4 linked regions of the Homo sapiens genome follow. The main gene of each other region encodes a partner of the protein of the gene in region 4 in a complex. Each region holds a gene or a part of one and is shown on either strand. Other genes may lie near its edges.

Evidence for each region.
Region 1: SNRNP200 (region 4) and SF3B2 share a complex: the UniProt entries of both Homo sapiens proteins name them as parts of the minor spliceosome.
Region 2: SNRNP200 (region 4) and USP39 share a complex: the UniProt entries of both Homo sapiens proteins name them as parts of the U4/U6-U5 tri-snRNP complex.
Region 3: SNRNP200 (region 4) and PRPF4 share a complex: the UniProt entries of both Homo sapiens proteins name them as parts of the U4/U6-U5 tri-snRNP complex.

What each region holds. Positions count from the first base shown.
Region 1 is NC_000011.10:66,061,055-66,069,363, forward strand, and holds the end of SF3B2 (splicing factor 3B subunit 2), read left to right. Parts: intron 1-631; coding exon 632-721; intron 722-836; coding exon 837-944; intron 945-1,954; coding exon 1,955-2,062; intron 2,063-2,345; coding exon 2,346-2,488; intron 2,489-2,573; coding exon 2,574-2,675; intron 2,676-6,891; coding exon 6,892-6,991; intron 6,992-7,093; coding exon 7,094-7,279; intron 7,280-7,619; coding exon 7,620-7,691; 3' UTR 7,692-8,254; downstream 8,255-8,309. UniProt on the Homo sapiens protein: Component of the 17S U2 SnRNP complex of the spliceosome, a large ribonucleoprotein complex that removes introns from transcribed pre-mRNAs.
Region 2 is NC_000002.12:85,646,624-85,650,530, reverse strand, and holds the end of USP39 (ubiquitin carboxyl-terminal hydrolase 39), read right to left. Parts: intron 2,602-3,907; coding exon 2,515-2,601; intron 1,771-2,514; coding exon 1,723-1,770; 3' UTR 1,248-1,722; downstream 1-1,247.
Region 3 is NC_000009.12:113,285,338-113,293,646, reverse strand, and holds the end of PRPF4 (U4/U6 small nuclear ribonucleoprotein Prp4), read right to left. Parts: intron 7,455-8,309; exon of another isoform or gene 7,439-7,454; coding exon of another isoform or gene 7,416-7,438; coding exon 7,357-7,415; intron 6,943-7,356; coding exon 6,819-6,942; intron 5,473-6,818; coding exon 5,383-5,472; intron 3,182-5,382; coding exon 3,059-3,181; intron 2,948-3,058; coding exon 2,840-2,947; intron 2,750-2,839; coding exon 2,631-2,749; intron 2,181-2,630; coding exon 1,987-2,180; 3' UTR 742-1,986; downstream 1-741. UniProt on the Homo sapiens protein: Plays a role in pre-mRNA splicing as component of the U4/U6-U5 tri-snRNP complex that is involved in spliceosome assembly, and as component of the precatalytic spliceosome (spliceosome B complex).
Region 4 is NC_000002.12:96,280,662-96,288,970, forward strand, and holds part of SNRNP200 (U5 small nuclear ribonucleoprotein 200 kDa helicase), read right to left. Parts: intron 8,086-8,309; coding exon 8,002-8,085; intron 7,309-8,001; coding exon 7,202-7,308; intron 6,897-7,201; coding exon 6,778-6,896; intron 6,500-6,777; coding exon 6,345-6,499; intron 6,217-6,344; coding exon 6,027-6,216; intron 5,824-6,026; coding exon 5,650-5,823; intron 4,680-5,649; coding exon 4,519-4,679; intron 3,925-4,518; coding exon 3,697-3,924; intron 3,344-3,696; coding exon 3,152-3,343; intron 3,053-3,151; coding exon 2,874-3,052; intron 2,692-2,873; coding exon 2,540-2,691; intron 1,262-2,539; coding exon 1,153-1,261; intron 1-1,152. UniProt on the Homo sapiens protein: Catalyzes the ATP-dependent unwinding of U4/U6 RNA duplices, an essential step in the assembly of a catalytically active spliceosome. Plays a role in pre-mRNA splicing as a core component of precatalytic, catalytic and postcatalytic spliceosomal complexes.

The sequences.
Region 1 (8,309 bases), on a different chromosome or scaffold from region 4:
CAAAGTGCTGGGTTTATAGGCATGAACCACCGCACCTGGCCAAGGAGGGCTTTTGAAGCAACTACGATAGTTCCTCAGCCTTAGAATTGCCCATCGACTACCCTCGGATGAGATGGAATTTAAAAATGAGGCTCTATTTGGAGGAGAGATGCAGATCTGGTGGCTTCTTTCCCTGATAGACTCTTCGTATCCTGTCTTAGAAATGATAATAGTTTGTGGTAGGTGGTTTAGGGATGGAGGGGCCAAGGGGCAGATGCTTTTAGGAAACTTTTAATATTGGGAGTGGTAGAGAAATTGCTGGTTTTTTCTGATCCTTGAAATCGTAGTCACCATGATGTCATGGAATTTATGAGGTGGAAGAATTTTGCATATCTTCCTGTCGAGTGCCCTCATTTTACAGATGAGGAGGCAGGTCCTAACGTTGGCCGTGTTCTCATAGTGGGTTATTGACAGCACTGTGAGTCTGGCCTGGTTTTTATTCCTTCCCCGACTTTGGCCAGGGAAAGAAGTGATGAGAATCAGAGTGGGAGCCAGGTAGCCCTCACTGGGATTTTATATCTGATGTGCGTTAGGATTGTGCTCCCACTGAGTGTCTGGGTCTACAATGTAGCATGCTCTGCTTTTCCCTCAGGGGAAGGAGTTCGAGACACGACTGAAGGAGAAGAAGCCAGGAGATCTGTCTGATGAGCTAAGGATTTCCTTGGGGATGCCAGTAGGACCAGTGAGTGTCAGTTAGCTGTCTGGGGAAGCAGCGAAGAGGCTGGTGGGGATTGGAGTGGAAGGCAGAGACAGGGATAGGGTTTGGCAGATGGTATCCTGTTCTCTTTTTCCTGCAGAATGCCCACAAGGTCCCTCCCCCATGGCTGATTGCCATGCAGCGATATGGACCACCCCCATCGTATCCCAACCTGAAAATCCCTGGGCTGAACTCGCCCATCCCTGAGGTGAGCATTGTCCTTTCGTTCATTCTTGGCCATTTCTGCTTTTGAACTGGAAGGTAATTTGTTTGTTTTCCTTCTCTAACTCCACCATGTGTCTCTTTATTTACTTAAAAAATATTTTATTGACATAATATTTGTCATATACCATGTGTATGTGTAGAAAAACAAATAATGGTTTTTGTTTTTTAAAGAAACTGACATGCTCATCATAAAATATTCAGTCAGAATTGACAAGTACAAAGATGAAAGCAAGTCACAATTTTACCACTCAGAAATAGCCAAATTCACTGTTTGGTGAATGTGTTTCCAGATATGTCTCTGAATATTAAGAATGACCAGAGAGAAATAATTTTATCTCAGCCAGATGTGGTGTCTCAACACCTGTAATCCCAGCACTTTGGGAGGCTGAGGTGGGAGGATCCCTTGGGGCCAGGGGTTTAAGACTAGCCTGGGCAACATAGTGAAACCGCACCTCTACTTTAAAAAAAAAAAAAAAGAAAAAAGAAATAATTTTTTTTTAGCTTCACTTCAGTCTCTCAGAAATAATTTTATCTCAAGAATGTCTTCAAATTTCTTATTTTAAAATAAGCATTAAAAAAATTGATGAGTCATTAAAGTAAAACAGTAGTATTGTTAAATTTTAGATAGAAATTTCTGCCCCTTAAGATAAATAGATTCTGAACAAGCTAGCTTTCCAAAGTTAGGAAAACTCAATAAGAAATTGAAGTCATGTTTTCAATGTACGTATTTTGGTTTCAGACAGTAAAGACTCTGCCATGACAGAAGTTATTAGCATACTTTCTGCCTCCTGTCTCCTTATCCTGTTGCCTCCAGATTTTAGTTGTTTATTAATTTTGGTTTCTAATGCTTCATAACATTTGATTTAATTCTGCAGTCATAATTTCCGGAGTTCCCAAGTATCAGCTCTGTACTTTTGAGTGTGCCTTTTCTCTAGGGCTTCAGAATTTCTTTTGCAGCTAAGGAGTGAACTGATTGTGCTCACTGTCTTGCAGAGCTGTTCCTTTGGGTACCATGCTGGTGGCTGGGGCAAACCTCCAGTGGATGAGACTGGGAAACCGCTCTATGGGGACGTGTTTGGAACCAATGCTGCTGAATTTCAGGTATGGGCCATGTACTAGCGATCTTGGTTTTACTTAATGTCATGAAGGTTAGATTGTTGGTTTATAGCTTCATTATCAGGGAGTTGTGTGTTCTGACACAGCAGAGCCTGGAAAAGGGCATACATTTTCCTGAGATGTTAATGTAAGCTCCTCACTAGAATTTGAGCTCTAGGTAGGTAGGGATTATTGTGTTTTGACTCTTACACCCCTTCAGCTTAAAACAGCCTGGCACATAATAGGTACTTAGAAAACATTTGTTGAATGATAAAGTGATCTCTTTCAGACCAAGACTGAGGAAGAAGAGATTGATCGGACCCCTTGGGGGGAACTGGAACCATCTGATGAAGAATCCTCAGAAGAAGAGGAAGAGGAAGAAAGTGATGAAGACAAACCAGATGAGACAGGCTTTATTACCCCTGCAGACAGGTGGGGGAAGCAGAGAATGCCTCTTGGAAGTGGGCTATCTTTGGGGTCCTTCTCTTTACTCCAGAGCTTGTTCCTCTCTTTACAGTGGCCTTATCACTCCTGGAGGCTTTTCATCAGTGCCTGCTGGAATGGAGACCCCTGAACTCATTGAGCTGAGGAAGAAGAAGATTGAGGAGGCGATGGACGGGTAAGGGTACCAGACAGGGCTGAGAGGGGAGGACCTTCACTTCCCTTTGGCTGGCTGGCTGACTGTTGTTCCTTTCTCCCTCATCCTTTTTTAAACAATTATTGAACCAACTCTCTGCCAGGCACTACTGTAGGCAGTGAGGAGTCAGCAGTTGAGGTAAACTGGTAATCAGAGAACAAGATACTTTCAGATGTAGATAAGGATGTTGAAGCAGAGGAAACTGGGTAATGGGATGGGGTGGCAGGGAGGCCTTTGGGAAGGCCTCACTGGGGAGGTGGTGCTTGAACTAAGACCCGAATGAAAAAGCGCCAGCCACAGGATCATCTGGGTCAGAAGTAACAGTAAATGCAAGCAAGTGCAAAGGCACTGAGACAGGGATGGGCTAGTATTTTGAAGCTCCATTTTTAGGTAGTTGAATGTGTAGTGTTGTTAGGTCTTCATGAATTGACCCCTTTATCATGAAATGACCCTCTCTTTATCCATTCTGCTCTTTGTTCCCTTTTTCCTGTTTTTCTACCTTCTTTTGGATTACTTGAACAATTTTTATGATTTCATTTTATCTCCAGTGTTGGTTAATTAGCTGTTAAGTTTTTGCTTTGTTATTTTAGTTGTTGCTCTGGGGTTTATAGATCATGTCTTTATCAGGATCTACCTTCTCTTGATGTTACACTGCTTCCAGATAGTATTAAGAGCCATTATAGTATACTTCATTTCTCTCCTCCCAATTTTTGCACTATATTGTCATATATTCACTTTTACATATGTTATAAATCCTATACTATATAGTTATTATTTTTGTTTAAATGGTCAGTTATCTTTTAGGGAGGTTTAAATAAGAATCATGCATGAAGCCATGTAGTTACCATTTTTGTTTCTTTCATTTCTTTGTGTATATCCAGGTTTCTATCTGATATCATTTTTCCTCTGCCTGAAGGGCTTCCTTTAACATTTCTTAAGTTAGGGGGCGTGGTGGCTTAAGCCTGTAATCTCAGTACTCTCAGTACTTTGGGAGAAGGCTGAGGTGGTAGGATTGCTAGATTCCAGGAATTTGAGACCAGCCTGGGCAACATAGTGAGACCCCATTTCTACAAAATATTAAAAAAACATTTCTTGTATTGTGGGTCTGCTGGTTTTGAATTTGTTCTGCTTGAGTAGTCTTAAAAATTCTTTATTTGGCCTTCATTTTTGAAAGATCTTTGCCAGGTTTAGGATTCTAGGTTGACAATCTTTTTTCTTTCAACACTTTTTTTTTTCTTCTTTGAGATGGAATCTTGCTATGTCGCCCAGGCTGGAGTGTAGTGGTGTGATCTTGGCTCACTATAACCTCCACCTCCTGGGTTCAAGCGATTCTCCTGTTTCAGCCTCCCGAGTAGCTGAGATTACATGTGCATACCATCACACCCAGCTAATTTTTATATTTTTAGTAGGGATGGGGTTTTGCCATGTTGGCCAGGCTGGTCTCGAGCTCCTGGCTTCAAGTGATCCGCCTGCCTTGGCCTCCCAGCTTGTTGGGATTACATGTGTGAGTGACCGCATCAGCCTTCTTTCAGTACTTTTAAGATGTTGCTCCAGTGTCTTCTTTCTTGCATTGTTTCTAGTGAGAAAACTGCTGTCATTCTTACCTTTGTTCCTGTGTACATAATGTGTCATTTTTATTTGGCTGTTTTTAAGATTTTATCACTAGTTCTAACAATTTGACTACAATGTGCCTTGGTGTAGTTTCTGAATGTTTCTTTGCTTGGGGTTTTTTAAGCATCTTAGATCTGGGTTTTTAGTTTTTATTAATTTGGGGAAAATTTTGTCATGATTTCTGCAGATATTTTCTCTGTTCCCTTCTCTTTCCTTTGGGAACTCAAATTATTCCTCTATTAATGAAATAATAAATGAAAAAATAAATGAAGAGCTCACTGATGCTCTTCATTTTTAAAGAAATTCTTCTCTCTTTGTATTTCACTTTAGAAAATTTCTATTGCTATATGTTCAAGTTTACTATTATTTTCTTCTGTAATTTCTGATCTAACAGTAATCCCATACAATATAATTCTCCTTTCTAGAAGTTTGATTTCGGGTCTTTTAAATCTATTCTTTCTCTCTTAACTTTTTGAACATGTGGAATGCAGTTATAACAATATTTTATTTTTATGTTATTTTATTTTATTTTATGACGGAGTCTTGCCCTGTTGCCTAGGCTGGAGTGCAGTGGCGTGATCTCGGCTTACTGCAACCTCTGCCACCCAGGTTCCAGCAATTCTTGTGCCGCAGCCTCCCAAGTAGCTGGGACTATAGGCGTGCGCCACCCCACCCAGCTAATTTTTTTGTATTTTTAGTAGAGACAGGGTTTTACCATGTTGACCAGGCTGTTCTTGAACTCCTAACCTCAGGTGATCTGCCTGCCTCGGCCTCCCAAAGTGCTGGGATTACAGGCATGAGCCACCACACCTGGCTATAACAACATTTTAATGTATTGTCTGCTAACTCTAACATCTGTGCCATTTCTGGGTTGACTGCCATTAGTTGATTCATTTTCCTCATTATGGATTGTATTTTCCTACTCTTTTGCACGCCTGGTAATTTTTTTTTCTTTTCCTTTCTTTTTTTGAGAGAGGTTCTCACTGTGTTGCCCAGGCTGGTCTTGAACTTCTGGGCTCAAGCAATCATCCTGCCTCAGCTTCCCAAAGTGCTGGGATTACAGGTGTGAGCCATCAGGCCTGTCCAGTGCCTGGTAATTTTTTATTGAATGCTAGGCTTTGTGAAATTTACCTTGTTGGGTCCAAGATATTTTTGTATTCCTGTACATTTTCTTCAGCTCATTCGGGAATATAGTTATATGGAGATAGTTTGATCCTTTCAGGTCTTGTTTTGGGGTTCTTGAGGCAGGACTGAAGCAGTCCTCCCCATTGTGAGGCACAAGTACCTGTGTACTCTACCCACCACCCTGTGAATCAGGAGGTTTTTCCGGCTGGCTAGTGGGAGTTACTCTATTCCCAGTTCTGAGTGAGCAGCAGTTGCTGTTATGAATCCTTTTGGGTGCTTCTTTCCCTGTCCTTGGTAGGCATGTGCTGCTTAGTACTCCCCTGCATACTTGAGGACCTTCTGTAGGTCTCGAGTTCTCTCTCTGCTCTTTTCTCCAGTACTCTATCCTGTGAACTCTAGCTGCCTTGATCTCCCTGGACTTTCAGTTTCATCCTCCCAACTCACGGAGTCCTCAGGGCTCTCCATGAGTCTCCCCTCTGTTCTGTGGCCTGCAAACTCTCAGGTGTGGTATGCTGGGGCAGTTGAAGGGCTCATCACATTTGTTTCCTGTCTCGCAGGAATCACTGTGCTTTGTTGCCCCATGTGTAGTGTCTTGAAAACCACTGTTTCATATATTTTGCCCATTTTTTTTGGTTGTTTCAGGCAGGAGGGTGTATCTGGTTCCTCTTGCTCCTTGTCAGGAAGCAGAAGTCTCAAGCTTTGCATATTCAAGGAAGAAAAATAAAGAAGGGTACTGTGGACAGAGTATAGTGAGGAGGGCTTGGGTAAGGGACCAGGCTATGAACCCTTTAGGTCATGGTAAGGAGTTTGGATTTTATTCAGATAATGATCAGAAGCCTCAGAGGGTTTTGAGCAAAGGTCTGACAGGACCCGACATCCGTTTTAAGGTATTTTCTCTGGCTCCTGTGTGGACAATAGATTGTCACCTCTTCCAGCGGGAGAGGTGGAGATGATGGGCATAGTCTGGGGTGATAGTGGTAGATTTGCTCTTGTTCCTAGTGTAATCCTTGAAATTAGTGGTGAAACTGGCTGTGGATGGCTCTTGCGTTGGAAGGCCTGGAAGTGTGAATTACATACATGAGAACTCCAGGCATGACATTCTTCGGGTGGGAACTGTTGTCGCCTGCTCTATCTTGCCAGCTTCTCTGTACCAAAGTTCTTTTGGAAACTTTGAGCCTCTCTGACCTTTTGACCCTTATGTGCATGTGGGAGTCCTGGTCTGTGATCCCTTGACTTGATTCAGGGGGCCCCTTAGCTCCATCTGTGTTCCCTGGAGTCAGCACTGTGCCACCCCCCCGCCCAATTCTTTTCTGTCATGGGCAGAACTGCAGAGGCTGCATCCTTGGGGAGCTCAGAAGCTCTCCAAGGCGCTGAGTGGAGGTGCCACCTGTATCTTTTGTTTCCGCTTCTGGAGACCCTTTTGTCCCTTGCTTTTTGGGCCTGATCCCATTGTCCTTCGCAGAAGTGAGACACCTCAGCTCTTCACTGTGTTGCCAGAGAAGAGAACAGCCACTGTTGGAGGGGCCATGATGGGATCAACCCACATTTATGACATGTCCACGGTGAGTACTTGGAGGATACTGCTTTTGGAGGCTGAGAAAGGCAGCAGAAGCTAGGGCTTCTCTGACTCTTTGGAGATGACCAGGCCCTGATCTCCTTTCCAGGTTATGAGCCGGAAGGGCCCGGCTCCTGAGCTGCAAGGTGTGGAAGTGGCGCTGGCGCCTGAAGAGTTGGAGCTGGATCCTATGGCCATGACCCAGAAGTATGAGGAGCATGTGCGGGAGCAGCAGGCTCAAGTAGAGAAGGAGGACTTCAGTGACATGGTGGCTGAGCACGCTGCCAAACAGAAGGTAGGCGCTTCCAGGGGCGCTGGGCTGGGTGAGAGCCAGGGACCCTGGCCTGCCGTTTTCAGTGGCATGGTGCCCTCTAGTGGTGAGAGTGAGGGTGGCCTCTGCTTGCTGCTCTGTGCTTCCTTAGATTTGGAAGTCTTAGAAATCCTCCAGTGGGCTGCCCTCTTTAAGGACGATGAGGGGGAGGAACTCAGCCAAGTCTGAGAGGGAGCTCGAAGAGAATTCAGATTCAGCGCCTTTCCCACAGACTTCTATGTCTATGTCAGGCTGCCCACCCTTGTTTTGGGGGTCCGGGGGTGGTTCAACCTGTCTTAACCTGTGTCTCTTTCTCCCTATACAGCAAAAAAAACGGAAAGCTCAGCCCCAGGACAGCCGTGGGGGCAGCAAGAAATATAAGGAGTTCAAGTTTTAGGTCCCCTCACACTAGCCCTTTTTTTGGCCCTACGTCTGGATGCCTGGGCTTCACACAAGAACCACCTCTCCCGCAGTTCCCAAGGACTTGTCATTTCATGTTCTTATTTTAGACCTGTTTTGTAAATAAAGCTGTTTCCCAAGGAAAGAGATGAATATTTAACACTCCTGAGCCTCCCTCATCTCCTTTTAGCCCCTTCTTGCAAAAGGACTAAAATAGTCTCTTTCTACAATCACTGGGCTGCCCCAGTAACCACGAACATAAACTGGGATTAGACGGCGCATTTGACTGGTGGTGACGCCAACCCCAGGCTGAAATCTGTGTTTCACCACTGCCCTGCTTTGTAGGAAGGCTTGGGGGAAGTACCTCTAGGTCTGGTTTGACCTTACTACTTTGTCCTTGGGGAGTAAAAATAGCCAGATTAGCGCCCTAGCGCGGCAGAGGAAGTAACAGTGGGCTTGGGAAGTAGGCCAGGGCAGGCCTTCCCAACTGACCTTGTGACCAGAAGTTCAAGTCCTTACCTGTGCGACAACATAGCTCAAAAGCTAAATTGTCTTGAGTCCATATGAACCCTTGGGTTCAAGCAACACTAGTCGCTGGGGTTTGGGATTTGTATGT
Region 2 (3,907 bases), about 11 Mb from region 4:
AGTTTGAGTTTACTTTAAAACACCCAAAAATAGGGCTGGGCACCATGGCTCACGCCTGTAATCCCAACACTTTGGGAGGCCGAGGCGGGTGGATCACTTGAGGTCAGGAGTTCGAGACCAGCCTGGCCAACATGATGAAACCCCGTCTCTACTAAAAATACAAAAATTAGCTGGGCACGGTGGTGGTCGCCTATAATCCCAGCTATTCAGGAGGCTGAGGCAGGAGAATCACTTGAACCCAGGAGGCAGAGGTTGCAGTGAGCTGAGATCATGCCACTGCACTCTAGCCTGGGCGACAGAGCAAGACTCCATCTCTAAAATAAAAATTAAAATTAAAAAATAAAATAAAATAAATAAAATAAAATAAAATAAAAAAATTAGCCGGAAATCACTTGACCCTGGGAGGTGGAGGTTGCAGTGAGCCAAGATTGTGCCACTGCATTCCAGCCTGGGCAACAGAGCGAAGTTCAAGAGTTTAGAAAAATCTGGGATTAAGATGTGTTTATGAGTCATTTCCATAAAAATGCATAGCTGAAATGGCCTAGGGAAAAAGTAAACAGCAAGAAGAGTGACGCTAGGACTGAATCTTGAGAAAACCCAAATTTAATGGCTGGATAGAAGAGATAAGCCTCCTAAGGAAATACTGGAGCTTCCAGAGAGGTAGAGGAAAGTGAGGACAAGGTTGTGACCAGGTAAAGGGTGGCACCACAGGAGTGCGGGGCTCCTGTCTCCATTCAACAGAACTTGCTGGGGCTGACTGGCTGCCTCCAGCTGCTTCCCATATCTTTGGACCTGCCACAGTGCTCATGCCAAGGCCACCCTTCTTCTAGGCTGCTAGAGCCCACGACTGAGCTTGATGGGAGCCATTTCTGCTGAATTGTCTGACGGAATCTTTGCCCTGGGGCTCCACACTGGACTGGCTGAGACCACCTCAGAATTGCACTGTAGTGAGAAGCGCTTCCTATTTCCTTTTTTTCCTCTTCCCTTACTCATTCCTGCACTGCAGCTGGAAACTGCCCACCTCTGGCCCTCTAGTTAAGCACAATAATAATGTATCCCCTTGACTCAGGTATTTTTTTACTTAGAAACAAATGCATCCTAACTGACACACCACCCACAAGCTGACAGGAAAGGGCGAGCGTGATGTGCACCAGATGTCAGACTGTAGGGTAGAGAGTTTGTGAAGATTAAAAAGGAAAATATTTTCCTCAGCCAACCACCAAAGGAAAAGATATAAAACAAGAGGCTGGTTTAAAAACAGGAGACTATTTAATCCATCTAAAAATACAAATCAGGAAATGGGGGGAACCATAGGAAAATCCTCCACCTCTAACAGAGCGAAGTTACTGGCTTTCTGCTTGCTCCAAGAATCCCAAGGCTTGATGTTTGGAAGGAATTATCTGTTCTTCAACTACTCCCAGATACTCAAGACATAAGTTACACACATCTGGAGAAGGGTTCTGCCCTGCTGAAGCTAGATGGGAGCTCAATGCATGGGAGAAAGGAGCATCAATCTAGAAAAAAATGATCAAAGAACAGCTGAGTGACAGTGTGGGGCCATCCCAGGCAAGTGGGCTCTTGGTGCTCTGGTGTAGCCAGAACCCATACAAGCTGGGCTGGCCTAGGAAGCCCACCAGCCAGCCTGTGTTCAGCTACAGCTTCTGTGTTCTTATTTACCATCATCAGCCACAGCCCTTGGGAGCAAAGCCCTAGACGCCTCCTTCAAGCCCCCTGCTGGTTGGTTTCATCATTATCTCGCCTCTTCCAAATCTGTAAGAAATGAAAACACAAACTGAAGTCTAGGAGGCATTCAGTCAACAGACACTTATCAAATACCTATTCTGTGCCAGGCCATGGACAACTTGTCACCCCATTTACAAATCTGCTATACCCCATTTGGAAATCTGCTACAGTGGCTACAGCCACTGAGGAGAAAAAAGTTATCTCTAGAAGGAGAGGTATCACTTTCTTCTTACAAAGCTATGGCTTTTGTCTCAATCTTCCTTCTTTTGCCAGGTACTAGGGCAGTTACATAAAGAGAAGACAGAGATGCTCTGTGCTCCATGGGTCAATCCAATGGAGAGGACAGACAGGCAAAGCGATATGGCCGGCACTAAAACAAACGTCAAGTAGAAAGCGCTGTGGGGTCACAAAGCTGCCTGGGGCTCTGGGGAGCACTTCGTGGTCGACTTCTAGCCAGCCTCCCTGATGAGTCTAGGTTCTTCCTCCTCGAAACCAGACCGCACACTTCTGCAAAACTAACCTGGCCATAATCGCAACTTTCTTTGCTCACTCATACATTTTCTACACTTCCTTATACTTCTTTTCTGAAAATCTCTGCTTGACTTTCAGGGCCATACATTCTGCCCCCAACTCACTACTAAGTACTTCCCAATAGGTACCTGGCCCTCCAACCAAGGTCCTAACTCTATCCCTCTTCCTGCCTTGGCCCACTCCTCTCACTGGCCCCATACGCCACCTATTTGTGGCTCACTAAGCCTGTGGCCAACCCACCTGAATGTAAGCCTCTGACAGTGTGATCATCTGGGGAAGGATGTCAGTCACCTGGAGGTCTTGTAATTCATACCATTTGCCTGTCCCCTGCAGAAAGTATGAAGAGCTGGGTTAGTCTGCTCTCTAAAACCAAAAGGGTGTAGAAGGAAAGGATCATAGCCAAGACTAGAAAAATTAGAAGAACAGCCACTAGACATCATCCAGCAACAGTCATAAAGAAGAGGGTACATGACTTCTTCTGGCCATGATTCAATTAATAGGACTTTTGGTGTGTCAATCATGGCAAACTCAATTCCTGTTGGGAATTTTTTTAAAGCACTGTTTTTTGTTTGTTGTTTTTTTGTTTTTTTTTTTTTTTGAGACAGGGTCTCACTCTGTCACCCAGGCTGGACTACAGTGGTGTAATCACAGCTCACTGCAGCCTTGACCCTCTGGATTCAAGCGATCCTCCCCTCAGCCTCCCAGGTAGCTGGAACTACAGGTGTGTGCCACTAAAACTGGCTAATTTTTTTTTTAATAGCAATGGGGTCCCACTGTGTTGCCCAGGCTAACTCCTGGTCTCAAAAGATCCTCCCGCCTCAGCCTCCTAAAGTGCTAGGATTATGGGTATGAGCCACTGCGCCTGGCCCCTTGAAGTACAATGGAGTCTGAAACACTTCTGTACATCTTTTTAAAAGGAATTTAGTGGACACTAAAGATGAGAAAAGAGGAAGCCATCTAATCATCACCTATGATGTCTCCTTCCTGCTCAGAAATGACAGACTAGACATTCTCACTTATGAGGTACACAGTGTCAACCACTGAGAGAACCTAAATATGGACATTCCTGGCTGGGCACAGGGGCTTACGCCTGTAATCCCAGCATTTTGGGAGGCCGAGGTGGGCAGATCACTTGAGGTAAGGAGTTTGAGACCAGCCTGGCCAACACAGTAAAACCCCGTCTCTACCAAAAATACAAAAATTAGCCAGGCCTGGTGGCAGGTGCCTGTAGGTCCCAGCTACTTGGGAGGCTGAGGCAGGAGAATCACTTGAACCCAGGAGGTGGAGGTTGCAGTGAGCCAAGATCATGCCACTGCATTCCATCCTGGGTGATAGGGTGAGACTCTGTCTTAAAAAAAAAAAAAAAAAAAAAAGCAACAGGTCATCAAGAAAAGGTGTCCTTGGTGGACACTGTCTATCACACTAACCTGATTCCTTTGGCCTAAGAAACCAGTGCTACAAATACAGCAAAACGTATCTCACTTCATGCTTCCATGAACAAGGAAAAAATGTTTCTAGATTAAGGCAGAGGCACCTCTGGCCGCCCACCTGTCTTATCCAACCAAAGTTCTAAGAAATACCAAAGACCATTATTGTAGAATATAAATATTCCAGATCCTCTGGATATTACAAT
Region 3 (8,309 bases), on a different chromosome or scaffold from region 4:
GTGAAATCGTGTCTCTACCAAAAAATCAAAAAAATTAGCTAGGCATGGTGGCATCCTCCTGTGATCCCAGTTACACAGGATGAGGGGATGAGGCAGGAGAATCATTTGAGCACAGGAAGTCAAGGCTGTGGTGAGCTGTGTTCGCACTACTGCACTCCAATCTCGGCGACAAAGCGAGACCCTGTCTCAAAATGAAACAAAACAAACCAGTTGTTTGGCTATATATCACACATTCAGGGTCCACAGAATAGAGCTGACCAAAGCCATTGTCAACCTCTCTGCAACAGCAAATTAAGTTTTTTTGAGATGGAGTCTTGCTCTGTTGCCCAGGCTGTAGTACAACGGTGTGATCTTGGCTCACTGCAACCTCCGCCTCCCAGGTTCAAGCGATTACATACGTGAGCCACCGTGCCCGGCCAAGAAGCCTTTCTTTAATAACTCTCCTCTGTAGACAACCTTTTCTTCTTCCAAATTCCTATATATTTTTTTGAATTTACTGTGTAATTTGAGAGTTCAGAGGCTGTATAGTTGAGGTGAAAAGAGGTGCATGACAGACAAGTTAAGAATTGTAATTGAGTCCAGGCCTGGCTTACTGGCAGTCTGGCCCAAAATGCAAACAGCCTTCTATTTTAAAAAAAATTGTTAACAAGGTGCTAAGGAGACATAAATCAGAGTAATCCATATTTGAGATCATCCATTATATCCCAAACCAAAAAAAAGAGACCTCTATGGACCAATGGCTAGGATTCAGAAAATGCTTAACTATAGAAAATAATTCTTTATAGGGTAGTTTTGTAACAGGATTTTACCGTAGCAAATGTGGAATAAAGAAAAGGTTTAGGTTTAGGAACACCCATTAGGGTTTTTTCGTTACTTCAACATAAAGTACCCTTTAATACACGAAGTACATCCTTTAAACAGCCAAGAGAAAGGAGGTTGTACAATAGAGACGTCATGTTTGCTTTCTAAACATTTGTTTGACTCCTGACACAATGGTTTTGCTTTGGGGTAACATGAAGGTTGCCAAACTTCAAAGTAAAAAAAAAGATATTTTCTGACAAAGCAAATGTTCAGTTCAGAGTTGCCTGATGCTGTCAGCATTCCAAGCAAACTCAATAGGAAGAGGTGAAGTCTTCTTCACTGTATAACCATCGGCGTGGCTGCGGTCTACTGCTTCACATCCCATTCTCCAGGGAAAGGAAAAGTGCTCGCTATGATGCATTGTTTAACCAATGAGTGGTGAGATGTGCCTCTTTACCTGAGGGCTTCCAGACTATAGTTCAGCCACCTTGCTCTCTGGGTCATATGTAGTCCTGAAGCATGTACCATGTTATGGAAAGCCAAGTTTCAAGAATTAAAAATGCAGAGTCAGTCACAATCCTGGGTGCTGTGAGGAAGGCTATAAGGCATTCGAACAAATTTTTTTTTTTTTTGAGACAGGGTCTTGCTCTGTCACACAGGCTAGAGTGCAATGGCGCAATCTCGGCTCACTGCAACCTCTGCCTCCCAGGCTTAAGCAATCCCTCCCACCTCAGCCTCCCAAGTAGCCGGAATCACAGGCAGAAGCCACCGCGACCAGCTAATTTTAGTATTTTTTTGCAGAGACGGCATTTGCCATGTTGCCCAGGCTCGTCTTGAACTCCTGAGCTCAAGCGATCTACCCACCTCGGCCTCCCAAAGTGCTAGGATTACAGGCGTGAGCCACCACGCCCGGCCAAACAAAAGATTAATAAAAACAATGTCTACACAGTTCGTGGCAGGGCGTAAAAAGGTAATAAATTTTCAACCGTGAGAGGGGTTCCCCATCACCTAGGGATTGGGCTGCCTTCCTGGAGTGGGGGCTGACATGGAAATCCAATTCTACTGAGGGTCTATGCATGGTAATTGGCAGAAAACATGATAGAACTAAACACTTCAATTCTTCTCGTTTGAGGAAAACAGCTCCTTAGAGAGAGCTTGAGGTTCAAGTCCTTTTCCCATTGTCATCTATTCAGCCATCCACAGCTTGAAGGTCCTGTCATATGAGCAAGTGGCTATGAGCTGCCCATCGGAAGAAATATCTAGGCCCATCACTTTGCCTTCGTGGCCAGCCAGAGTCTTCAGCGGGGACCAGCCTGGGTGCGTCCAGATCTTGGCTGTGTTATCATAGGCACCAGTAAGCAAGAAGTTCCCATGGATAGCTACAGGAGAAGAGAAGGGGAATTGCTTGAGGAATTCAAGTATTCAAAAGAGAAGACAAAAGCACAAAAGTCTGCAAAAACATACTATTTTTAAAAAAACTTGTTTCTACAGACTTAAGGGAACAAATAACAGTAAGGTCTTTTGGCTCATTCCCTGACCGAGAATCTATTCAGAATAATATTAAGGACTCAGTGCTCAGAGCATCCATGGAGGAAAGAATGAAGCAAAGCACTCATGAAAGTCTGCTTTACTTCCTGCAACGAGAAGCGTGCTTTCCCACAGATCTAAGGGTATGGCAGAGGGAAGGAAATTATAATTTGCTCCTTTACCAGTAGGTCAATTTCTCTCCTGTTTTACTGCTCAGTTAAGCTAAAGCCTGGCCTGCATTCCACGGGAACACAATACTGTTTGTCTGTGTCATTTAGACGTAAAATAGGAGGAAAGCTTACGCTCAAACTTGACACCAGTCACTAAGTTCTGATGAGCAGGGATGGTGTAGACGCAACGCCGCTGTCGGAGGTCCCACACTTTGCAGGTGTTGTCACCACTGCCGGTTGCAATGTGATAGCTGTGGATTGGATGCAGTATTGAAGTTAGAAATAGAGTACTTACTGACCCAGAACCCTTTTTCGCCCCTCATTCAGTGTGTTTATTTTACCCATTGGGGGAGAAATTTATTCCATAGATTTCTTTCAGGTGGCCTTCTAAGAACATGATACAACGTCCTGTGCGTAGGTCCCAAACTCGACCAAATGCATCCAGTCCCCTGAGAAAATAATTTAGAAATGAACACTTTGAATCCAGTTCTCTGTGGAAGCAGGTATAGGTAAGAGGTGAGAGTACTGAACTGCCCCTGACTACATGGGAGAAGCCTTACCCAGTGCCAGCCAAAGAGCCATCTTGATGGAAGGCAATGTCATACACACCCATGCTATGGCCTTCCTGATGCAGGATCTCCTCTTGAGCCTCCAAATCCCATAAGCGCCATGAACGGTCATAGCTAAAACCAAATCACACTAACAATCAACCAGCTGATATTTATTCAGTTTCTACAACACATAAAGTATTCTAAGCCATTATAGCTTAAGTTATTAATGCTTCTGAAACTATTCATATAACCATATTAACAGGAAGCTCCTTTCTGACATAAACAATGACTCAACAACTAAGCTTATCTGCCTTAGGTGCTAGCTGAAAACCATGGAATCGCTGTAAACCTCTAGGGCTTTTTTTTTTTTCTTCTTTTGAGACAGAGTCTCACTCTGTTGCCCAGCCTGGAGCACAGTGGCGCAATCTTGGCTCACTGCAACCTCCACCTCCCGGGTTCAAGCCATTCTCCTGCCTCAGCCTTCTGAGTAGCTGGGACTACAGGTGTGCGCCACCATGCCCAGCTAATTTTTGTATTTTTCATAGAGATGGGGCTTCACTATGTTGGCCAGGCTGGTCTCGAACTCCTGAGCTCAGGTGATCCACCCACCGTGGTCTTCCAAAGTGCTGGGATTATAGGTGTGAGCCACCATGCCCAACCTAGTGGCTATTGTAATAACAGGATTCCCCAAGAATGGCCCAGCAAAGACTCTGTTACCTTCTTTCTTCCTCCACTGTTATATTCTTTCATTCATCAAGCATTTATACATTTACTAGGCCCTAAATTGGATGTTGGGGATACAAAAATCACTCATACACAAATAGATCAATGGAAGAGAATAGGAAGTACAGAAATAACCACACATATATGGTCAGATGATTTTCAACAAGGGTACTGAAACAATTCCAACAGAGAAAGGAAAGTCTCTTCAATACAAGGTGGTATAACTGACTATGCACATGGAAATAAAGACAAAAGAGACAAACACAATTTAAAAAACCAGGCAAAGCATATGACAGAGCACTCAAGAGCAATAATGATCAGGGTAATAAGAATGAAAATCACGGGAGATCACTACACACCTGCTAGATTGGGCAAAATGGTAAGACTGACAACACCAAATGTTAACAGGGATGTGAAGTAACCAGAACTCCGGGAATGTAAAATGGTGTAACCGCTTTGGAAAACTGGTGGGGAGTTTAGAAAAAGTTAAATATACATCTCATACCTCTACCCTATGACCCAGCAATTGTACTCATGTCCACAAAAAGCCTGGTACAAGAATATTTATAGCAGCTTCATTCTGACTGGCCCAGACCTGGAAACAGCCCAAGTGTCCATCAACAGGAGAATGGATAAACTATGGCACAGTCATAAAAATGAATAACCCCCAGCAATAAAAAGGAATTACTGATACATGCAACAACATGAATGACTCTTAACAATGTTATGCTGAAAGAAGCCTGCCACAAATGAATTCACAGTATGAATAGACATAATTAATTTGTGGTGATAGAAGTCAGATCAGCAGTTGCTTTAGAAGGGGGAGTTGGCTGGAAAAGGGCATGAGGGACCTTTCTGGGGTGATGGACTATTCTCTATATTGACAGAGGTGTCGATCACAGGAATGGTACGCGTTTGTAAAGACTGACAGCATTGTACACTTAAAATAAATCCATTCCATTGTATGTAAATTATAACTTAATGGAAAAGTTCTCTAACAGATTCTAGCCTCCCTGAACTTACAGAACCAGGAAGGGAGACTTATATACCTGTAGCATTGGACAAGAGTGAAAATCCTTGTTTTCTGGTAATTTGTAACTCTGAAATTTCAGATTAATTGTAATTTAAAGGCAAATATGGCTGGGCGCGTTACCTGTTATCTATAATCCCAGCACTTTGGGAGGCTGAGGCGGGAAGATCACCTGAGGTCAGGAGTTTAAGACCAGCCTGGCCAACATGGTGAAACCCTGTCTCTACTAAAAATAAAAAAATTAGCTGGGCATGGTGGCACGCGCCTGTAGTCCCAGCTACTCGGGAGGTCGAGGCAGGAGAATTGCTTGAACCCGGGAGACGGCGGTTGCAGTGAGCCGAGATCGCGCCACTGCACTCCAGCCTGGGTGACAGAGTGAGACTCCACCTCAAAAAAAAAAAAAAGGCAAATATACTTAGCTCTCACTATATTAAACATTCTCCTCTGATTCCAATTCCCTGCAGCCCAAGAAAATCCTACCTGAAGATCTCTGCTCTAAAAATTTACCTGGCAGATAGCCATAAAGGGTTAAGAAGATGCTACAGGCCTATATGGATAAAACAATAACAGGATGGCTCACCAGGTGGTGCCCAGGAAACGTCCTGAAGGATGCCACATTACCCGCGCCACACGCACTGTATGGCCTTCAATATCTGCCACTGGTTCATCACTGGAAAGGAACCAAACATATAAACAATTTTATAGACATATAAATAGTCACAAAACTGCTTACCTTCTGTGCAGACATACCCATTCTGTACAACACGAGAGGCTAAATTGTAACTACACTTGTAAACTACTTTGGCCCAATAAGCAAAATAGTCATTCTGCACCAAAGGAGTACCTGGATTCTAGAAAGAAAACATGCTTTGGAAGAGATATAAGGACACAGAAATCACATAGTTTTGGTACAAGTGGATTACAGATAAACCTTTTTCAAATTTAGGCCTGTTCCAAGATCCAAATGAAAAAGGAACTCCTAAATAGAGATGAGGCTTAGTCTCCTTTTGGTGGCCATTAAATTCTGCTACCCAGCAACCACCAAAAGATCTGAACATCAGCAAAAGGAAATAAACATGAACTCTAAGGAACGCAATTAAAAAGGGAACTTTGTCAATGTGCATACACAGAACAAGCCAAAGCCCAAGGGGAATAAACATTGCTAAGTATTACCAAAGCCAATTAAAACTCACTGCGCTCCTAAGTGAGACCCTGTCTGGTGAGGAGTGAAGACATTAATTAGCTCTCATAAAAATTCTCAAGTAAAAACCTTCATGTGTTTTCCCAAAGAAAGAAAACTAAACAATTAAATTCAGATGCCTTTTGGCCAACAGGGTGCTTCCGAAGTTTTTTTTTTTTTGGAAAACAATCACATAAACACATTTTTAAAAACTGTTGTAGTTGGAAAATACATTCTAGGTAAAGGATGATGCTATTGCGAGGAGACATCTCCGTGGTAATACTGCTAGACAGAACCTCACTTTCCTCTCCCCTGTGGCTGTTTGCTAAGAACCAACGAACTGCCAAGAATATTATATTTAGTTCATTGTTAATTTATCATGTAGGAGGTAGGCTGGATCTTTCTGGAATAAATGGAGCTAGGAAATAGTGGTCACTAGGCTATAGACAAAAATCAAGATCCAAAGTTAACAGGTAAGAAAAAACGGACATAACTCCTTTAGTAAGAAAAGGCCTAAGAATGAAATCTTCCACTTACTTCATTTTCACACTAGGTTACCTTGACTCTTAAACCATCTTGGGGGTTAAATGCCAGATTTTTTTTTTTGTTCTTTCAAGACGGAGTCTTGCTCTGTCACCCAAGCTGGAGTGCAGTGTGCAATCTCGGCTCACCACAACCTCCATTTCCCGGGTTTAAGCAATTCTCCTGCCTCAGCCTTAAGGTGTGAGCCACTGCGCATGGCCTAAATGCCAGATTTTTACTGAGGTCCTGGGGACCAACCAATCAAACATCTACTTTAGTGATGGCAGTATGGGCCACAGAACAGTGATATTCACCTGTCGAGACTCCAAAGCTTCACAGAGCCATCAGCCGCACAAGAGGCCAGGTTGACATCTTTTGGGTCCAAGGAGACAGTGGATTTGGGATGGAATACAATTGCTCCTACATTTGTGTTATGCCCTAAAGGAGTGTAAGAGATGCAAGTTAAAAGGTTCCTGCCTCTTTATAACCCATGTTATATACTAGGGAACATGTGGACATACAGAGTATTCAAGTGACTATTCAACTATTAAAACATGAACTATTTTAATTTAAGCTAATATTTAAATTACATTTTTAAAAAAGCAAAACACAAAAAAACCCATTTTGGTTTTTGGTTTAGAGATTATAAAATGCCAGAGTGTGACTGCACATGAGAGAAAAGTGGATGTGTAGGAAGTTGTGATAGTCCAGTCTTGCAGCCAGAGAAAACCAAGTCAAATCAAATCAAGGATTAATGCTGTGTGTATGGGGTCTGAGTGTCAAGCAGAGTTTAAGGCTTAACTGAGTTCACACTGGGAAAAAGACCGAGATTTGGATAAGACTCTAACTTACCTCGAAGAGTGTGAAGGAGGTTGCAATCAGGAACAGACCAGAGCTTGCAAAGCCCACTCCTATCAAATACAAAGGAAAGCATCTCAGCCAGGGTTGGTCTGGGAAGGAAAAGGTACCTTGGTAATATTACTAAAGGACAATCTCTTCTCACCCCCAATAAACTTTACAATGGCTGACAGAAAAATAAAAGCCTTATAGTTAGAAGGGTTATAGAAGAAAAAGCTACCTCCAGCCCACACGCAACCAGAGGCTTTTACTGGACTATAATTAACACTACACCAGTAGCCATTCTCCTTAACTTTTGGATCCACTTGTGAGGGAAGGTGGGGCAAATTAAACTATCCAATAATACGAATATTAATAGTGATACTGTCCTTAAATATGAATAGTATTTTGCTGATTACAAAGTATTTAAATTTTTTTTTTGAGAAACAGTGTCACTCTGTCACCTAGGCTGGAGTGCAGTAGTGTGATCACAGTTCACTGCAGCCTCAACCTCCCAGGCTCAAGCAATTCTATCACCCAGCCTCCTGAGTAGCTGGGACTAACAGGCGCATGCCACCACACCTGGCTAACGTTTTAAAAAATTAAATAAATTTTTAAAAATTTTTTGGGCCAGGCGCTGTGGCTCACACCTGTAATCCCAGCACTTTGGGAGGCCAAGGCGGGCAGATCACAAGGTCAGGAGATCGAGCCCATCCTGGCTAACACGGTGAAACCCTGTCTCTACTAAAAATACAAAAAATTAGCTGGGTGCGGTGGCGGGTGCCTGTAGTCCCAGCTACTTGGGAGGCTGAGGTAGGAGAATGGCGTGAACCCAGGAGGTGGAGCTTGCAGTGAGCCGAGATCGCGCCACTGCACTCCAGCCTGGCCGAAAGTGTGACACTCCGTCTCAAAAAAAAAAAAAAAAAAAAAAAAAAAAAAAAAAAAAAAAAAAAAAAAAAAAATTTGTA
Region 4 (8,309 bases):
GCCTCAGCCTCCCAGGTAGCTGGGATTACAGGCGCGTGCCACCACACCAGGCTAATTTTTGTATATTTAGTAGAAACAGGGTTTCACCACATTGGCCAGACTGGTCTCGAACTCCTGACCTTGTGATCCACCCGCCTTGGCCTCCCAAAGTGCTGGGATTACAGGCATGAGCCACCACACCTGGCCCTTTTTTTTTTTTTTTTTTTTTTGAGACGGGGTACCACTCTGTTGCCCAGACTGGAGTGCAATGGCGCGATCTTGGCTCACTGCAACCTCTGCCTCCTGGGTTCAAGTGATTCTCCAACCTCAGCCTCCCAAGTGGCTTGAATTACAGGTGAGTGGCTTGAATAACAGGCACCTGCCATCAAACCTGGCTAATTTTTGTAGAGACGGGGTTTTGTCATGTTGGCCAGGCTGGTCTTGAACTCCTGACATCAGGTGATCTGCCCACCTTGCCCTCCCAAAGTGCTGGGATTACAGGTGTGAGCCACCACACCCAGGCTTTTTTTTTTTTTTTTTTTTTGAGTTGGAGTCTCACTCTGTTGCCCAGGCTAGAGTGCAATGGTGGGATCTCAGCTCACTGTAGCCTCTGCCTCCCAGGTTTAACTGATTCTCCTGCCTCAGCTTCCCAAGTAGCTGGGATTACAGGCGCCTGCCACCACACTCAGCTAATTTTTGTTATTTTTAGTAGAGACGGGGGTTTCACTATGTTAGCCACACTGGTCTTGAACTCCTGACCTCAAGTGATCCGCCCGCCTCAGCCTCCCAAAGTGCTGGGATTACAGGCATGAGCCACTGCGCTCGGCACTCCTCTAGCTTCTTACTTGTCACTATATAGGTGTATGACCTCGACCAAGTCACTTTTCCTAATCTACAAGATGTCTGAGATTAATGACGTAACGTCAAACATTCCTCCTGGCTCTAATTTCCTACCTCTCCCAGCTGCTGAATAAGGAAGCACAATGACTAAAAAGCAAATGTGAGCCTAGGTATTGAGACACAAAACTCTCAAACACTTGGCTCTGGTGGCATCTCAGCTGTTAACTTCCCTAACACCTTTTCTTCATCCTAGCTTACTTTCTGTGTATCTGCAGATTCACATTCATTTTAGGAAGGAGGTCTGTGCTAACACAGAGCACCAGTTGTACTCACGCGTGGATCTTGCCATTGTAGTACTGGGTATCCATGATGATTACCAGGTGGGCAGCCACGTTCATGCCCCAGCAGAGACTCCGAGAAGCCACCACCACCTGGATAGCCCCTGAGCAGTAGAGGGGAGAGGAAGGCTGAGGGCAGGGGTCTCCGGGTGAAGTAGGCTCACTGCCTCATGGGCAGGCCGTGGCTTACCCTGTGCTATGTTTCAGAACTCACAGCAAGGCTGGCTAGGAACAAGGTCTAACATGAATGAGAGCTAACACATTGCTATGAGGTAGCTCCACGCTGCTGGTGCCTTGCTCTGGGACTATCCAGGAGAAAACAAGTCATCATAGAACAGAACCCAAAGCCCAGGAACACCAAGGCAAAACTACAGCTGATGGACTGCTCCTCTGACCAGAAAGTGCTAACACTCATGCAGCCACGGGCTGGCTCAGCCATGCCAGCAAAACAGAGATCACTCTAAGCATGCCCCAAACAGGCAGATTCAAGGGCCAAAGAGTGACAGGAAGTGATTCTGGCAGAAGAATCTCCAATGAGGCTCCAATAAACAGTATTAAAACGTAAATCTTTGCACAAAATGCCACAGGGCAACAAGAGACAGTGGCCAGCAAGAGTGAGCTCAAGGGAGAATCAGAGCTCTCCTCTGTGCTAATCTCTAAAGTCTAACTATCTTGGTGAGACGGTTTGGATCTGTGTCTCCACCAAATCTCGTCGACCTGTAGTCTCCAGTGTTGGAGGAAGGGCCTGGTGGGAGATGACTGGCTAATGGAGGCAGAGTTCTCATGAATGGTTTAGCACCACCCACCCTTGGTACTGTCTAGTGAATGAGTTCTCACGAGATCTGGTTGTTCAAAAGTGTGTAGCACCTCCCCACTCACTCTCTCGGTCCTGACTCCTGCCATATAAGATGCCTGCTTCCCCTTTGCCTTCCCTGAGGCCTTCCCAGAAGCAGATAACACCATGTTTCATGTACAGCCTGCAGAACTGAGTCAATTAAACCTCCTTTCTTTATAAATGACCCAGTATCAGGTATTTCTTTATAGCAATACAAGAACGGACTAATACACTTGGGGAGTCTGGTATCCACGGAGAATCAGCGGTCTGGTGGCCAAAGGTCCTGGACTCTAGAAAACCAGGTTCTGAAATAGCACAACCTGATGTGTCTGCCTGTTTTCTCACCTGGCAAGTAGGGATAGTGTTTGTCTCACCTGCCTCACGAGGTTCTTGGGAGGATCAAATGAGTTAACAGCCAAGAGTCCTAAACAGTATTTTGAAAATCTCTGGTATGCTGTAGAGAAAACACTGCCACCCGCACCCCTCAAGTTTAACACCACCACTTGGTGATACCCTTGCTATGCTCCCCTTCCGTGGCCTGACTTACCTGAGCTGAAGAGCTGCTCCACCAGGCGTCGCTCCATGGGGCTGAGCCCCTCATGCAGGTAGCCCACCCCATTTAGCAGCGTTTCCTTGAGCGTGCTGTCACTTAGCTTCTCCAGGTACGGAATCAGATCCTTCTCGGTGCAGTGCAAGAACCTGTGCGGTACAGGCACTGGCTCAGCTCAGAGTAGTTCAATTCCTGGCAGACACTTTGCCAGCTGTGCAGAACCTGGCCCCAAGCAACATGGGCTAACCCCACCCTCATAAAGAGGACACCCTTGGAGTAGGCCAGCCTCACTTAACCTAACCCCAACCCCCAGACGCCAGGCCCCACCTACCTCTGCCGTTGGATGTCTGCTGCACAGGTGGTGAGGATGTCAATGGCAGTGAGGCGGGTCTGCTTGCGAGACGGCACAAAGACAATGACAGGCTTCTTGGGCGAGTGCTTGGTGATAGCATGGTACACAGGCTTGGCCATGGAGAGCAGGCGGGTTTGTGTATGGCTGATGTTGAAGCCCTGGCGACCGGGGAGAAGAAAAGACACCAAGGTTATCAGACCTGGGTCACTCAGGATCTATGTGACACCCCACAGACGGATGAGGAGAGTGGGTCCTACCTGGATGTGCAGCTCCAAGGGGACGGGACGCACATTGGGATGGAAGTTGAAGGTGGAGGTGGCACTGCAGCCCAGCCAGTGGGCCACATCCTTGGCATTGGAGAGCGAAGAGCTGAGTGCCACAATGCGAATGGGCCGCTCAATCTGGGAGGAGATGTAGCGCATTCGGGAGCAGATCACTTCTAAGACAGGCTGGAAAGAGGGAGGGAGGGAGGGTCACTGCAGGCCAAGGCTCCCATCCTCTGCCTGGAGGTCCCCTTTGTGAACAGCCCAACAGCCTCAAAATGACCTCATTCTTCCTTCTAACTAGGAGCTCTCATGTGTTTGGTTCTACCTCCTCCACGGCAGCCAACCTCCACTAAACAATACTGTTTTCCTAAAGTACTACCAAAAAAGTTAACATTGTCCCTTTGGAATAGGGCAGCAGGTAGAATCCTCTGGGGAGAAGCCCCGAGCCTCCGTCCTCAGACCCAAACATTAGGTCCAATGCCAAGGCCACTTGGTCAGTCCCAGTCCCTCATCTGTGCTGCAAGGTCACGCCATACCCCATTCTCGCCCCCGATAAGGTGGACCTCATCCACCACGAAGAGGTTGATGTTCTGCACGTTCTTGCGCTGCTTCCATCGCCGGGAAAGTATGTCCCACTTCTCAGGGGTGCTGATGATAATGTTCCCTTTGCCCAGCAGCTTCAGGTCTGTGCTGGTCTCGCCTGTCAGGAGTACCACCTTCTTGTTGAGCCTGTCCTGGAACTTCTCGTACCAGTCCATGTATACCTGGCGGGCAGAGGAGGGAGGCAGAACAACACTAGGCCATACCAGGCATCTTTCACTTATGTGAGGAAAACCTGAGATGCCAAACAGACCTGTTGACCTGCAGATCTCAAGCTACGTTCTAATCCCATAGCAGCCTCTATGCGATGCGATGGGGCAGCTTTTTCTTTTTTTTTTTTCTTTTGAGATGAAGTCTCGCTCTTGTTGCCCAGGCTGGAGTGCAGTGGTGCGAACTTGGCTCACTGCAACCTCCGCCTCCCGGGTTCAAGCGATTCTCCTGCCTCAGCCTTCCAAGTAGCTGGGATTACAGGCGCACACCACCACGCCCAGCTAATTTCTGTATTTTTAGTAGAGACAGGGTTTCACCATGTTGGCCAGGCTGGTCTCGAACTCCTGATCTCCGGAGATCTGCCCGCCTCGGCCTCCCAAAGTGCTGGGATTACAGGCGTGAGCCACCACGCTTGGCTGGGGCAGCTTTTCTTTAATACACAAACTGAGGAAATGACCCTGCAAATTTCAGGGCTTAGAAAGCCTTCATACGGAATCACAGATGAAATGCTTCTTGGGAAATTCACATGACACAGCGCCACGTCATACCTGCTCTGCCAGGGCCTCCATGGGGGTGATGTACACACAGCGCCCCTCCGAGCTCTGCAGCAGCATTCGCAGGATGGCAAACTCTGCACAAATAGTCTTCCCGCTGCCCGTGGGGGCCCCCACAAACACGTTGTCGTCACTGTTGTATACAGTGTTAAACACTGGAAACCAACAGAAAGAAGCAGTGTAAGTATCAAGAAGGAAGAAGAGACGGACTGGGACATGGATCAATTGTCAAAACAAAGGACAACATACGAAATGAAGTCAGGCAGTTCTGGAGTGCAGACAGAGGAGCTAAGGCATCCAAGCCTCTAACTCCAGGCCAGCCCTACTGTACCCCCTTACCTGCTCCCACTTAACAGTTAAAGGGGAAGAGGCCAAGATCAAGAGCCCAGGTCCCCTGGAGATGTGTGGGATGACAACAAAAGCAAAGCAAAAGAAGCCACACATTCTTCTTTGCTTCTCAGGGACTAGGATGCGGGACAGAAAGGAACTGGATCCCTTTCTCTGCCCCTTCAACACTCTCCTGCGTTTCCTAGAAATAGCCTAAGGTAGAAAGTAAGAGCCTTATCCCTGGCATCAAGACTGAATTAAAATCCAAGTTCTACTATTTATCAGTTGGTTCAACTGGGGAACCCTCTATGCCTCAGTTCCTCACCTATAAAAGGAACACTAATGGCAGTATCTCCAATAGAGATTCCTTTTAGGCTTGATGGGAGGAATAAGAGAGAAAACACCGGTGATGTACTCAGCCATGGACTGAGGAAACAGTGCCTGCTCTGTGAATGTCCCCGTTATTTATCATGATGTGGTGAGGAGGCTTCAGTGCCACCCCATGGTTCTGGTTCAATACTTGAGCGCCAGGGGCAGGCCTCTAAGCCTCCTGGGCCCGAGAAATGACCATGCCATGTAAGGCCTTGCTCTATTGCCCCTCCACAGTGACACATGCAGAGCAGCAAAGCAACCAAAGGCTTCTGACAAAGGAAAAAGTCCTGGTGGGTCCCAGCGGTCACACTGAGGAGCTCCCAGACCTCCCAAGTGCCTGAGCACCCCCACTCCCCTGCCTGCCACAGAGCACATCTGTCTCCCGGTGACTTCAAAAGCCTCCAGAGGAGGGATGGAAACACTTACCCTGGGTCTGGATGGGATTGAAGAAAGGAAATTTATCTTGGTAAAGACTCTCAAAGGCACTGTTTCTCAGAGCAGACACGGGCAAGGGCTGCAGGTCCAAAAGTTCGGTTGGAGGGGGGTACTTCTCCGGCAAGATCAGGTGCCGGAAGGAGACAGGCAGCTGGGTCTCACAAGCTGCCAGAAAAGAAACAGGAAGGATATAAGCACTGCTCTCTTTCCCTCACTGGCCTCTAGATCCCCTCCATGAACACTGGAAACCTAGGCAGCATATGTATCACTCTGTCCCCAGCAAGGGCAAGCCCGGGACAAAGTGCAAGACATTCTTCTACTGTCCTTGGAGGGACTGTTCCTGGGGACTCTGGAGAGGAGACACTCACAGAGCCAGCGGTCAGACACCACTCGGATGAAGTACTGAGGGGGCAGCGGTTCAAAGACAGGCACGAAGAATGTAATGAGGTGCTCGTCCTGGGCGTACTTGGCCTTGAGGAGAAAATACTCATGGTGCAGAATCACCTCGCTGTCCACATCCTCCACCAGAATCCAAAAAGCCTCGGATGAACCATGCACCTGCCAACAGGAGCAAGGGTAAAAGGAATGTGAGTCAACGTAGACTGAGTGCCTCCAATCCATCTCCTCGGCCCAGCAACGTAGACTGAGCACCTCCAATCCAGCACCTCTGCCCAGCAAAGCCTCACCTTTTCATCCCACTGGAAGTCTGGCGTGATGGTCAGCTCCACCTTCAGGGTGGAGCGTGTGATAGGCTGCAGGTGCACTGACAACTCCAACTTGGGAAACAGATGGACATATTTGTGGATGGTCTTCCCCATCTTTGGCATGCGGATAAGCTCCCCTACAAGGAAATGAGAGTACTGAGGCTGCAGCCCAGCCTGCCTACTATACTGCAAACTGGGCCTGAGGGCCACTGTGGGAAAGGGGTAGGGTCTTCCCTTTATGGTCAGTGGAGCCCAGGATTCCAAGTCCCCAGACCAAGGGCCAGCCTGTACTTCAGTGGGACTTGGGGAGTGAACACAGGATACTAATGCACAGGCCTAGGAACAGGAAGACTACATAGGCAAACTGGGAGAGACACCCAGGCAGTGAGGACAAGGGCGAGAGCATCCCACACACCAATCTCATTATGATTCAGGTCGTACAGACGCTCAAAGGGGAAATTCTTCTTCTCAATCTTCTTCACTACTTCCTCAGGGAGTTTCCGGAACTGGCGCAGAGGACACATGGACTGCCACCTATCCAGGAAGGAGGCAAAGCTGTTGGTCCCTTCTGCAGGGATGTGACAAACCACCCACTTCATGGCTTCCAATAGTTTAGCAGTGACTACACAAAACACAGTCATTAAAGGCAGACACTGACACTGTGCCAGCCCTGGCCTCCACCACAGAGGGCCTTCCCTCTTCTCAATGTGCACCAAGGTTCAGGTCATACTTCCGATGTCAGGTCTGGAGATCAGATGCACCCTGAGGCTTTCCCATCAGACCCTTGGGTTGGGGACCCCCACTCATGGTGACCAGCATCCAGCTCACTGGGTCCTTACATGCGTTTGTCGATCATCTTGCAGAGGTTCAGGGTCTTGTCTGTAAGCTGTGCCCAACCTCGGTTCAGGACAATTTCAAATATCGCTCGCATCAACCGGCCAGCCGACTAAGCAAAGAAGCAGCATTCCCACTGTTAAGTCTCGACTATCCCCAGGCCTCATGAGCCACTCTACACACGGTTTCATTACCTCCAGCTCTGACACAACCACCCACCCTAACTCAAAGGCAAAGTCCCCTCTGTCTTTACGCCTTTCTCCGTTCCATATAGTAGATGCTTGCCGGATGGGGAACAATTAGAAGAGTGCTGCGGCTCAAGGTCACTGCACAACATTTTAACCTAACATTCACTGCATGATTTTAAAGCTTTTGAGTCATTTAGCATTTAGAGTTCTAGGAAGAGTTGAGGGTACCAGTGACCTGTTCTTAGAGGTAAAGATGAAGAGCAGCTAATAAAACCCTGTGCCATTTTTGGATTTATTTATGAGCTGTGCAGCAACAGTGGGAAATCACTTTGCTGCTGGGAAGCAGACACTGCGTGCTGTGGCTCTTCCTGTCTCTCTGAGGGCCCGTGGAGCCTCGAAGCATTCCCTCTTAAGGTCTTACCTTTCCCACGTGCTCAAGATGTATACTACAGAGTGGCTGTACCACACATGCACCAACCAACTACCCGGCAAGAGCAGAACTAAGCACTCCTCCCATCTCACTAGGGTCGGGCCTCCTTTCCCCAGGATGCACACAGCACACAGGGATTGAACTGTTCAGGCCCCTTCTCACAGCTGCCATACAACTCCGCTCTCACCTGTGTGACATACACCATGTCAGCCATCAGTGCAAAGCCCTCCAATTTCAGCTGTGAGATGAAGGCTTGCAGAAGAACGTTGATCTGTAAAGAAGCAAAATCAGCCAGCAGGAGACCAATCACTGAACAGTCCAAGAAAGGGAATTACATTTCTGCTCTGAGCATCCAGGCCAGGTGAGATTTGCTACAGGTCTTGATTTACAAATACTAAATAATTGTTATTTCATATAAAAAGAACATGCGAGAAGGCTGCAAAAACTAGGAGAACTGAGCAGGAAACCACACATGAACCCAAATTCAAGGTTCAT